Linked DNA regions of Homo sapiens. The protein of the gene in region 1 purifies or fractionates together with the protein of each later gene. This does not show direct contact. Each region holds a gene or a part of one and is shown on either strand. Other genes may lie near its edges.

Region 1 (4,912 bases):
AGGAGCGGCTGTGATGCTGCTTGTTTCCCAGAGCCACCCCACGCCCACCTTCAGGAGTTTCTGGCCCACCTTCCCCTGGGTTTCTCCCCTGACCCTGGCCCAGGGCAACTGCTCAGGGTGGGTCCACACCTTCCTAAAGCCACTGGCTAGATGGACCAGAGGAAAGACAGATATCTAATAGCCAGGTGGGAGGGACGAGATGGATGGCAGAATGGATAAAAAGAGACAGGACAGATGGACAGTTTGTGGATATTTAGGGTGGCTGATGGAAAGAGGGATATGGGTGGGTGAACAGGCCAATAGGACGTGTTGCTCTCCAGACTGTTGCGATGTTTCCTTCTCTCCACGAGCAGATCACCTGGAATAACATGGGAAAGGGGCTGGGGCAGGGAGGGAACAGTCCCTGCAGGGCAGTGTGGCAGCCTGAGGACTGGTGAGAAGACCTTCACTGTGAGCAGAGCTGAGTGGCCAGAAGCCTTGGCACTTGCCGGGCCTCAGCGGGCCTCGCTCTTTGCCTCCCCAACTCCTTATCCTCCCATGCCCCAAACCCCATCTCTCCAGCCCAACCTGGGTATGAGAGGTGCATGCATAGCGCTTGAGGTTGCCGAAGTCACAGGTGCTGTCCTCCAGGCAGAAACTGGCCTTGTGGCCCTCGGCCACCTTCTTGCCTGTGGCTGCATCCAGTAGGTCGTAGTGGCTGAACTCGTCCATGCTGTGGTAATGCCTAGGGGCAGAGGAGAGAAGGAGAAAGAAGAGGGCCTAGTCTTCCCTGGGCCTCTCATCCTGTCCCCATCCTGAGATGGGCTCAGGTGACCCTGCTGTGGCACAGCCTCCTGGCTGGTCTAGGTTCTCCTGTCTCCTGAGTACTGCGGGGTGGCCCCTCTGTGCTCCCCACCTAGCTGGGTCACTCCAGGACAGCACATGCTCTAGACCCCTCACTTCCTTTTTGGGCTCCCACCTGTAATGGCCTCACTGGGCAATGCCCTGTATTCTAGACATTTCCATCCCTGATTGAGACCAATCCTTCTATATCCATCTTCCAGCCTAGCTTTGGCTAAGGCTTCTCTGAGAAACACTTGCCCCAGTGAAAAGAGTTGGCAGGTAACACCTCCCCGGGCCCTCTAATCCAGTATCTGTGTCTCCCAGAGTGCTCATGGTGGGAGGGGAGCTCAGGCACCAAGGTCCCTGGCCCAGAGGAGAAGTGGAAGAGGACGGGCCCAGCCCCTCCCCACTCACTGGTGGCAGCTGTGCCACTCCCAGGTGTGCCGTGGCCGGTTGGGGAGGAAGTCTGCTGTGCCCTGGTTCTTCACGCGCTGGGGGAAGCGCAGTAGCACCCGCACATCGTAGTCGGTGGCCTCAGGGGCATAGGCTGTGCTGCAGGGACGGCGGGGGAGATGAGGGGGGGTTGGGGCACAGTGACACCAGAACCCAGCATGGGCCCCCTCAGCCCCACCCCCAGCCCTTGGCCACTGGTTCTGCAGCCCCACTCCTTGTCCCTGAAGATCTTCTCCTCTGTCTCCTCGAACTGTGGCGGAGGCTCAGGCCTCTTCCTCTGTCTTCTGACCCCGTGAAATCCTGGCTGTCCCCTCCTTTCTGGCCTCCACCATGTGGCCGCCAGCTGCCAACAGCATCTTTCTAAAGCGGTACCAAGCATGGCAGTGTCCCTGATACCTGCAGGTGACTCAGCTGGGGTCAGCCCCTAGGTGCAGGAGCACATAGCAATCTCTGAAGGGCCACTGAAAAACAGCCCTATTGCGGGGGCCAGGCACTTTGGCTCATGCCTGTAATTACAGAGCTTTTTGGAGGTCGAGGCAGGAGGATCACTTGAGGCCCATAGTTTGAGACCAGCCTGGGCAACATAGTGAGAAATTAAAATTTAAAAAATTAATTTAATTAAAGAAATTTTTAAAAAATTAAAAAATTAGCCAGGTAAGGTGGCTTATGCCTGTAGTCCCAGCTACTTGGAGACTGATCCCTTGAGCCCAGGAATTTGAGGCTGCAATGAGCTATAATTGTGCTGCTGCACTCCAGTCTGGGCAACAGAGTGAGACCCCCTTTCTAAAAAAAAGAAAAAAAAAAGTCCTATCCAGGAGATTCTGATAAGTCTCTGACAACAAGACAGAGCCCTAATTGTTGACCAAAGTATGCCATGTCTTGGGTGTGGGCCTGAAAAACAGACGTGAAGTCCTCTGGTCAAAGCCTCTTCACTTTTCTAGTCCCATCTGCCCTTCCACTCCCCCACACACCCTGGGTTCCTGCTTCAAAGCCTATTTTCCAAACAGGCTGAACTTTTTCCCTGACCCATACTTTTGCCCATGCTGTTTGCTTGACCCAGAATTCCAAAACTCACCCAGTATCCTAGGGTCAACTCAAAAGTCCCCTCCTCCAGGAAGTCTGCCCTGATTGCTCTACATAGAGGATCCGGATTGCCTGTGAGCTCTAACAGCACTGACTGCAGCACAGCCCGATACCATCTACATCTTGCACTGGGTCCAGACCACCTCTCCCTGATTGCATGGCTTCAGGCTGGCAACCTGCCCTTTTCCATTCAGGGAACATGGGTCTGGTATGAATTGCCTGCTCGCAAGTCACCTGCTGACTCCAGATTTCCAACTGAGGTAGGCCTTGTGACAAAAGGAAAAGGGTGGAAAGAGGAACGAGGGGCTGCAGTGAGGGGAGACACACACACATGCACACATACACACACATGCACACACATGTGTGGTAGGAACAGGAAGGGGTGGCTGAAGGCCCCTCCCCTCTTTAGCTGACGGCTGACAGCTAACTCTGTTGGCCTCAGGGGCTCTTCCCTGGCACTCATTAAGGTCCGATCCTAAGGCCAGAGGGGAGCGGTGGCCAGTCGTAGGGATTAGCGCTCTCTTTGAGAGAATGTCTGGACAACAGGCGGCTCAGACTGTCTGCCAGGATGAAAGGCCCTCAGCCTTGTCTGGGGGAGGCTTGGAATCTGTCTATGTCTGGGTTGAAACAAAACATCCTCCTTCCCTCTGTTCAGTTAAATCCTGCCCTTCTGTTCGGCTCAGCACACCGTGGGAAACCATAAGGGTCTAGGTTCTAGGCCCAGCTTGGCCACAAACTGGTGGTGAGACTTGGAATTGGTCCCTTTTCTTCTCTGGGTTCTGCCTGCAGCATGTGAACTGGCACCAGCCTGCGGCCCATACTTGAAATGATCTCAGAGGGCCCTCCTGCCCCAGGGCTCCAGTTTTGCAGGATTCTCCAGGTCTGAACTCCCACGCCCACCTCCTCTGAGGCCTCAGCCCTTGCTGATCCCTCCCTCCTCTGACCTCCAGCAGCCCTGGCCTGTGAACCAGTCCTTCTGGCTCTTTTCCCACTCGTGTCTTGGTTCTGTCACTGGGGTACAGGTGAGGGCTGTTCTCTCCAGCTGTACCAGGAGACCCTCCAGGACAGAGGACAGGCTGCCTCCTCTCCCCAGCTGGGAGCGCAGGTCCGGGCACTCAGGATCCTTCATGAAGAGGCAGTGATGTTAATAGTTTGACTTTGACTAATTCTCTTAAGACTGGAAGGGCTGTCATGGAGGCTGTAAGTTCCTCATTGCTGGAGGAATTCCAGCAGGACCATTATGCTCTCTTCCCCAAGACAACTGAAACAAGACAAGAACTGCCCAGACAGGCTGGCTGAGTGGTACTCAGCCTGCGGTCCCTGGACCAGGGGCAGTTCCCACACTGATGCCAGTCTGGGATGGGATTGGGAACTTGCACCAGAATGTACATCGACAACATTCCTAATCACTCTGCTTAGTTCAGCGGATACTTTTTCTTTTTTTAAAGCAAGACTTTCTCAATGAAGGAGTGAGTTGAGTTACATTCTAGTTCAAGCTCTTTATCTTGTTACAGACAGATAAGGGTTTATGATCAGCTACTTAGAGTGGCAGTGAACTAGAAGTTCTAGAAATGAGAAAATGTTGAGATTCTAAAGAGTTTCCTAGATAGTAAAAAGTCAAACTAAACAGAGAGTTCAAATGTCCAAAAAGCAGGTAATTAAGAAAAATAGGTGCTTTCAACATAAAGGGATATTAACAAAAGAAGCAGATAACATAATCTTAACTAATTATTTTGGCCCAGGGAGGTATCCGCAAAGCACCTATGTTCCAGCAGAATATGAACTGCTTATAAATTAGAAGCAAACACTGCGAGAGGCAGGATCACCCATGAATAATGGCGAGCCAGCTGTGCTCACCTTCTAGGTTCATGGAAACTGGTCTCCTTCCCCTCTTTCCAGTGCAACATATAACTGAAACTTCTTTGTCCCCCGGGCTCACTGCCCCTGCTGTGACTAGGCAGAGGCAGCCTGGACCAGCCAAAGCCACAACTGTCCTCTGTGGACATGGCTCCATACTCCTGGGCTCTATCCTGCAGGTACATCCACCCAATAGGACTTCCTTGGGTCCCTGTATGACCACTGGAAGCCTGGGCTCCCAAAAGGAACCTTCTCATTAAACAGCTCAGATCCAAAAGGTTTGAGTTCCTTTCATTGCTCCTCAGTTTCCTGAGGGGGTAACCCATGCCTTCAGGGCTCATATAAAGATGAAGTGCCACAGTAAAAGTGGAGTTCCTTGTATAGTGAGGTACAGTATACAGAAATGCTGGGCCCCCGCTTGCTCCCCTCCCCTCCTGACTCCCTCGGGGCAGGCAAGGCTCACTGATGAAACGGTCAGGGTCCTGGGAGGCTGGGGCACTTGGCCAGGGTCATCAGCTTGCAGACAGCCTAGCTGGCAGCCACAGCTAGGCTGGGTTCTGGGTGACTCCCGGGGACTATCCCAACACTCTACACTTCTGCCTCAGCTCCTTACCTGGCCAGACACTTCTCCTCCGCAGCACAGCGCAGGGAGTACAGGTGGGCTCTCTGCACATAAGTGGATGCTTGCACATAGTTG
Region 2 (4,912 bases), on another chromosome or scaffold:
AGATAAATTCCAGGGAGGAAGTCTGTCCATTCCTTTCAAATCATTCTGCTCCTATCATCTACGGTTCATACCTCACAACACTCAGGGAAAGCCAGGTTTCTTCATTACATGAATACCAGCTGTGATTTCTCTGGAATGTGCGATCTGGCTTAGACTGAGCCCATTCTTGAATCTCAGCCTGGAGGCAGAGCCTCAAAGAATCACAGATAGGGTTTGGGCAGAGCCTCAAAGAATCACAGATGGGGTTTGGGCAGAGCCTCAAAGAATCACAGGTAATTACAGATGACTTACCTACCAAGAGCCTGCAAAGTCTTGCTCTGGTGGGAGAAGGGGATAACTAACTCTGCTAGCCTGGAGAGCTGGGCACCTCCAAGCAGCAGCTCCCAGACTACCACATCAACACTGACATCTCTGGCAGGGGTACTCTGGAGCCCTACCCCATTTCTCCCAAGCCTGGGCCCCTTAACTCAAAAGGCTCTGTACAAAAAGTCCTCTAATTAGAGTCAGATTGGGAGGAGGCAGCATCCGAGAGGGACTGTGCCCCACAATGTGGGAAAGGCCAACCTCCAACCCATCTCATAACTATGCCCACAGCTTGCTTAAGACAGAGTAGGTGAAAGTATGTGTACCTGCTGAGTGCCCCTACAAAGTGTCCAGTGCTGCTAAAAGCCCTCCCAGAAACCCTCAGAATCCAACTGGAATAAGTCTGGAGGTGAACAATGTCAAACCCACTTTTATGAAAAACAAAGTGACATCTTGAGCAGAAAACCAATACTGAGTTTTATCTGTGCTGCATCCCCAGAGTTTAGAACAATGTCTGTCCCATACCAGGAACACAACAAAAAATACTTCACCACAGACTTGTTCAAATTAGGAAACTACAACAATAGAAGATTTTACATTTCTTCTATACAATGAGTTTTTATGGAGTATATTAAAAATGAATACTATATATCAACATGAAGAGATCTAAGCATACTGTTAAGTGAGAAAAGTGGGCCCCAATAATATGCACTCTATAATTCCATTTTTGTAAGGAAAAATTAATGTATATGTGTATATAGAGAGATGCAAGAAAAGAGTCATACATCTGGCTATATCTTGGTGAAATAATTTCTTTTTATTTTTATGCTTGTTTCTCTAATCTTTCTACAAGAAATTCTATAGCAATTTTTAAAATTATTTTATCATATGCTTAAAATGTAAAGAAAACAAAGCAGGCCCTTCTCAAACAGACTCCAAACGGGCCCTGCCAGCCCTAGTGTTTGGACCCCCACAGGAAAGTCCTGCAAAACCTGCCAACATCCCAGCAACAGTGATTCACCCATCAGGCGACTGGCACTGTTTCTAAACACAGGGCAATTCCAAGACATACAACCAGAGGTCCCACCAAACCTGAACTTTGGAAAAGACATTTACAATCTGGCCAAATGGCCATGAAAAGATGTTTCCAGCTGCAAACCAGCAGCGTCCTTAGCTTCTCTCCTTACCTCATCAGGCAGAATCTCTGCCAAGCTCCCAGCTGCAACCCAAATGCAACAGCCTGAGTTTTAACAATGTATTTAACAGCCTAGAGACAGAACATGAGCTTGCTGAGAACAAACTGGTCTTGCTTGGCACTGAACAAGAACCTGCCTGCCTTCTGTGAAGGGGGAAAACCTAACTGGACACGGCTCCCCGCTGCCTCCAACTCTAGGATAACAGGGCTGAAAGGACCTGTGTGTTCAGCCTAAGAGGATCCAGAGGCTCCAGGAGACCCTGCCACCAAAGCACATGGATGTCCATTCAGGCCTATAAGCTGCTGCCACGGCACCCTAGGCAAGTATGGGGGGTACCCTACTCTCCTTAGCCTCAGTCATCACCCTGATCTGAGCCACCCCTAACTTCCCCTACAGGCATCCTGGCCCCCACTACACTGGCCTCTCCACATGTCATCTGGCCTTCCTCCCACCTCTGCTCTACAAAGTAGCCAGCATGGTTTATCAAAGCCCTCCTTTGGCTCTCTACTGCCGTCAAGATAAAGTTCAAACTCTTTAGCCCAAAGGGTCCTTTTGAGTGTGTGACCAGGCCCTACTGCCCTCTCTAGCCTCATCTCACCATGCCAGGTTTCGTATCTTCAACAACTACTTTATGTGAAAAAATATTCTCCTTCACGAAGAACCTAATAAAGCCAAGATGTTTATCTGTATCTATCCACATACTTTCTCAGTCTGGTACATGAATAGTGGTTGACTTCCACTTCCCCACCTGGGTACCATCACCACCACAAAGTCTTGCTTCAGTAACTAGACAATGAAGTAGCAGAGAAGGCTGTTAAAACTGACATGCAAAAGCCAAGTTGGGTTTTCAGTCATAGTCTTGGCAGAGACTTGGCAGTCTGGATGAGACTAACCCACAAAAGGGAACTACACTTGAGGATAAAATCCATATACCACTATATTGGATGCATCTTACGTCCCACCTTGCAACCTCTTGGTCTCACCCATCTCCCAGGTCCCAGGGTATTTACTTTGCCTCAGCCCAGTGGAGGAGACTATCCAGGCCCACGCCAGAATCTCTGGCTCCTCTCACTATCTCCAGACTCTGTTGAAGTACCAGACTGGCCTCCCCAGTGGCTACCAAAGGGCCCTCATAGGGTAACCAAGTACATCTCTGTGCAGAGTAGCCAGCTTGCTAAAACACCACCTCCCATCCTCCTTTATACCTCACTTTTTTCTTTTGTTTTTTTGAGACAGTCTCGCTCTGTCGCCCAGGCTGGAGTGCAGTGGCACAATATTGGCTCAATGCAACCTCCACTTCCCAGGTTCAAGGGATTCTCCTGCCTCAGCCTCCTGAGTAGCTTGGACTACAGGTGTGTGCCACCATGCCCAGCTAATTTTTGTATTTTTAGTAGAGATGGGGTTTCACCATATTGGCCAGCTGGTCTTAAACTCCTGACCTCAGGCAATCCATCCATCTCGACCTCCCAAAGTGCTGGGATTATAGGCATGAGCCATCGCACAGGCCTGCACCTCACTTTTGTTTTCCCTCACCCTGGCTGCCCTGCAATTACACCTTCCAATAAAGCATTAAGTACTTAAGCTCTGTCTCAGGCTGTTTCCTGGGAACATAGTCTGAGATAAGCACTATTTGTTTCCAAAAATCTTTCATTTCTACTATCTAATTCTCACCCAAACCTTCTAAGCTAGATAACTACCTCCATTTCAGATATAAGATAGATACAAATGACAAACAGCTGAGGCTGAGAGAAGGTTTCCTACATATCTGACATCTGACAGCAAATCAATGACAGAACCAAGAGTCAAACCCAAAACACACTCTGCTAGATATTGCAGCTATCCAGTCCTACTCAATAATCTGTTACCTTAAAGTGCAATGGACTCCCAAACAGGGAAGCCACACTTTGCCCAGGAAGAACATGCCTGCCCAGGTTAAGGACTTTATCATGGGTTACACCAAAGGTTCATAAAGCAGGTCCATGACACGCCTGGCTGGATCTCACCAGAGGGAGGAACGCAACATGGACCCAGAAAACAGCAACATGGTCCCTTAAGTTCAGATGGGCAGTCACTCCTACCTTAGACATGACAGCACTCACAAATAACCAGCCAGTCCAGCTCAGGGCAAGGCAGTACAGTCAAATGGACAGGCACACCTGCCCTAGGGTCAGACATACTAAGAGTTAAACCCCAATTCTATACCACTTCCCGGCTTTGTGACCTTGGACAAGTTATAGGATTCCTCAGTTTCCCCATGTATATAATAGAGACAATACTAGGACCTATATCTCATAGGGCTGTTGGAGGACTGAATGTGATGACAGATGTTGGCAGGTAGCCCTGCACTAGGCATAATTTATGTCAATCATTAGTACCAAGGGCACCAGAGAAACATCAGTGGACCTGAGGCAGCCAGCTGCCCAGCCCAAGTCAGCTGATTCCTGGGTGAGAAAGAAGGTCCAGACTAGGGAACAGTGAAGATGCAAACAAGGCAGAAATTGGGCGATCTCCATGTTCCAGGAGCACCACAAGAAATGAAACATTTAATTCAGGAGAGACTGGAATCAGGTATAATGTAGTACATTGATCATCAGGGGATAACCCTGGAACTGGTCAATCACTGGCTCTAAAGCTCATCAAGCAATGTTCTCTAGCAAAAGGCGGGGGATTGGACCAATACTCTAGGAACTCATGTACTTATATGCCTCTGACCTGCTCATTCCAGGCTCCTACAAGTACCCAGGCCTGAGGATCTCCACTACACCCTGGCCCTCAGAGTGCCAGGTACAAAACAGGCCACACTCTAAGCAAGCACTTCCTGAAAGGTCCAGAGCAGATGCTGGCCTGTTACCAGGCTCAGATAGATTCCATCTGAGCTGGAGAGCACTCTACCCAAACACTTAATCCTCTGCCCTGCAATGACACCAGCTGAACAAGAACTCTCTTCTAGGGCTCCAGTAAATCATCCAGACTTTTCATTCTCCTCTGCTCTGAGGAAAAAAAAAAAAAAAAAAAACTGTCTTTCTATCTCTCATTCCATGTCCGTAACACAAAGCCCACAGACCACAGGACCTTCCAGCCCTCTTTGCTCTAGGACAGGCTGATGTCTTACCCTAAGGAACTTCAAATGTCCAAATTGCTAGATGTGAGCAACTTTCCCGAAGTTTAACTCTCACTCCAGCACTCTGCTGGGCTTGCATGTACTTGCATCACAGCTTTTCCTGCCAACTTCCATCTGCATAATAGTAAACTCTTGACAGACCCCAGGAGCCAGGGACACACCTCCTAGCCCTCTGCACACTATCAGCCAGCGTGGCCACACATCAGCCAAGGCCTTGCTTCCAGTCTCAGACCCTCCCAAGGATGTGGGAGGGCAGAGTGAAAAAGGGAGGCCTTCTTAGGAAATGAGGAGA

The links. The genes of interacting proteins can lie anywhere in the genome.
Region 2: the proteins of LOXL1 (region 1) and P4HA2 purify together in Homo sapiens (co-immunoprecipitation; one large-scale study listed by IntAct). This does not show direct contact.

Annotation. Positions count from the first base shown.
Region 1 is NC_000015.10:73,942,879-73,947,790, reverse strand, and holds part of LOXL1 (lysyl oxidase homolog 1 preproprotein), read right to left. Parts: coding exon 4,829-4,912; intron 1,375-4,828; coding exon 1,237-1,374; intron 725-1,236; coding exon 568-724; intron 1-567. UniProt on the Homo sapiens protein: Catalyzes the oxidative deamination of lysine and hydroxylysine residues in collagen and elastin, resulting in the formation of covalent cross-linkages, and the stabilization of collagen and elastin fibers.
Region 2 is NC_000005.10:132,220,555-132,225,466, forward strand, and holds part of P4HA2 (prolyl 4-hydroxylase subunit alpha-2 isoform 2 precursor), read right to left. Parts: intron 1-4,912. UniProt on the Homo sapiens protein: Catalyzes the post-translational formation of 4-hydroxyproline in -Xaa-Pro-Gly- sequences in collagens and other proteins.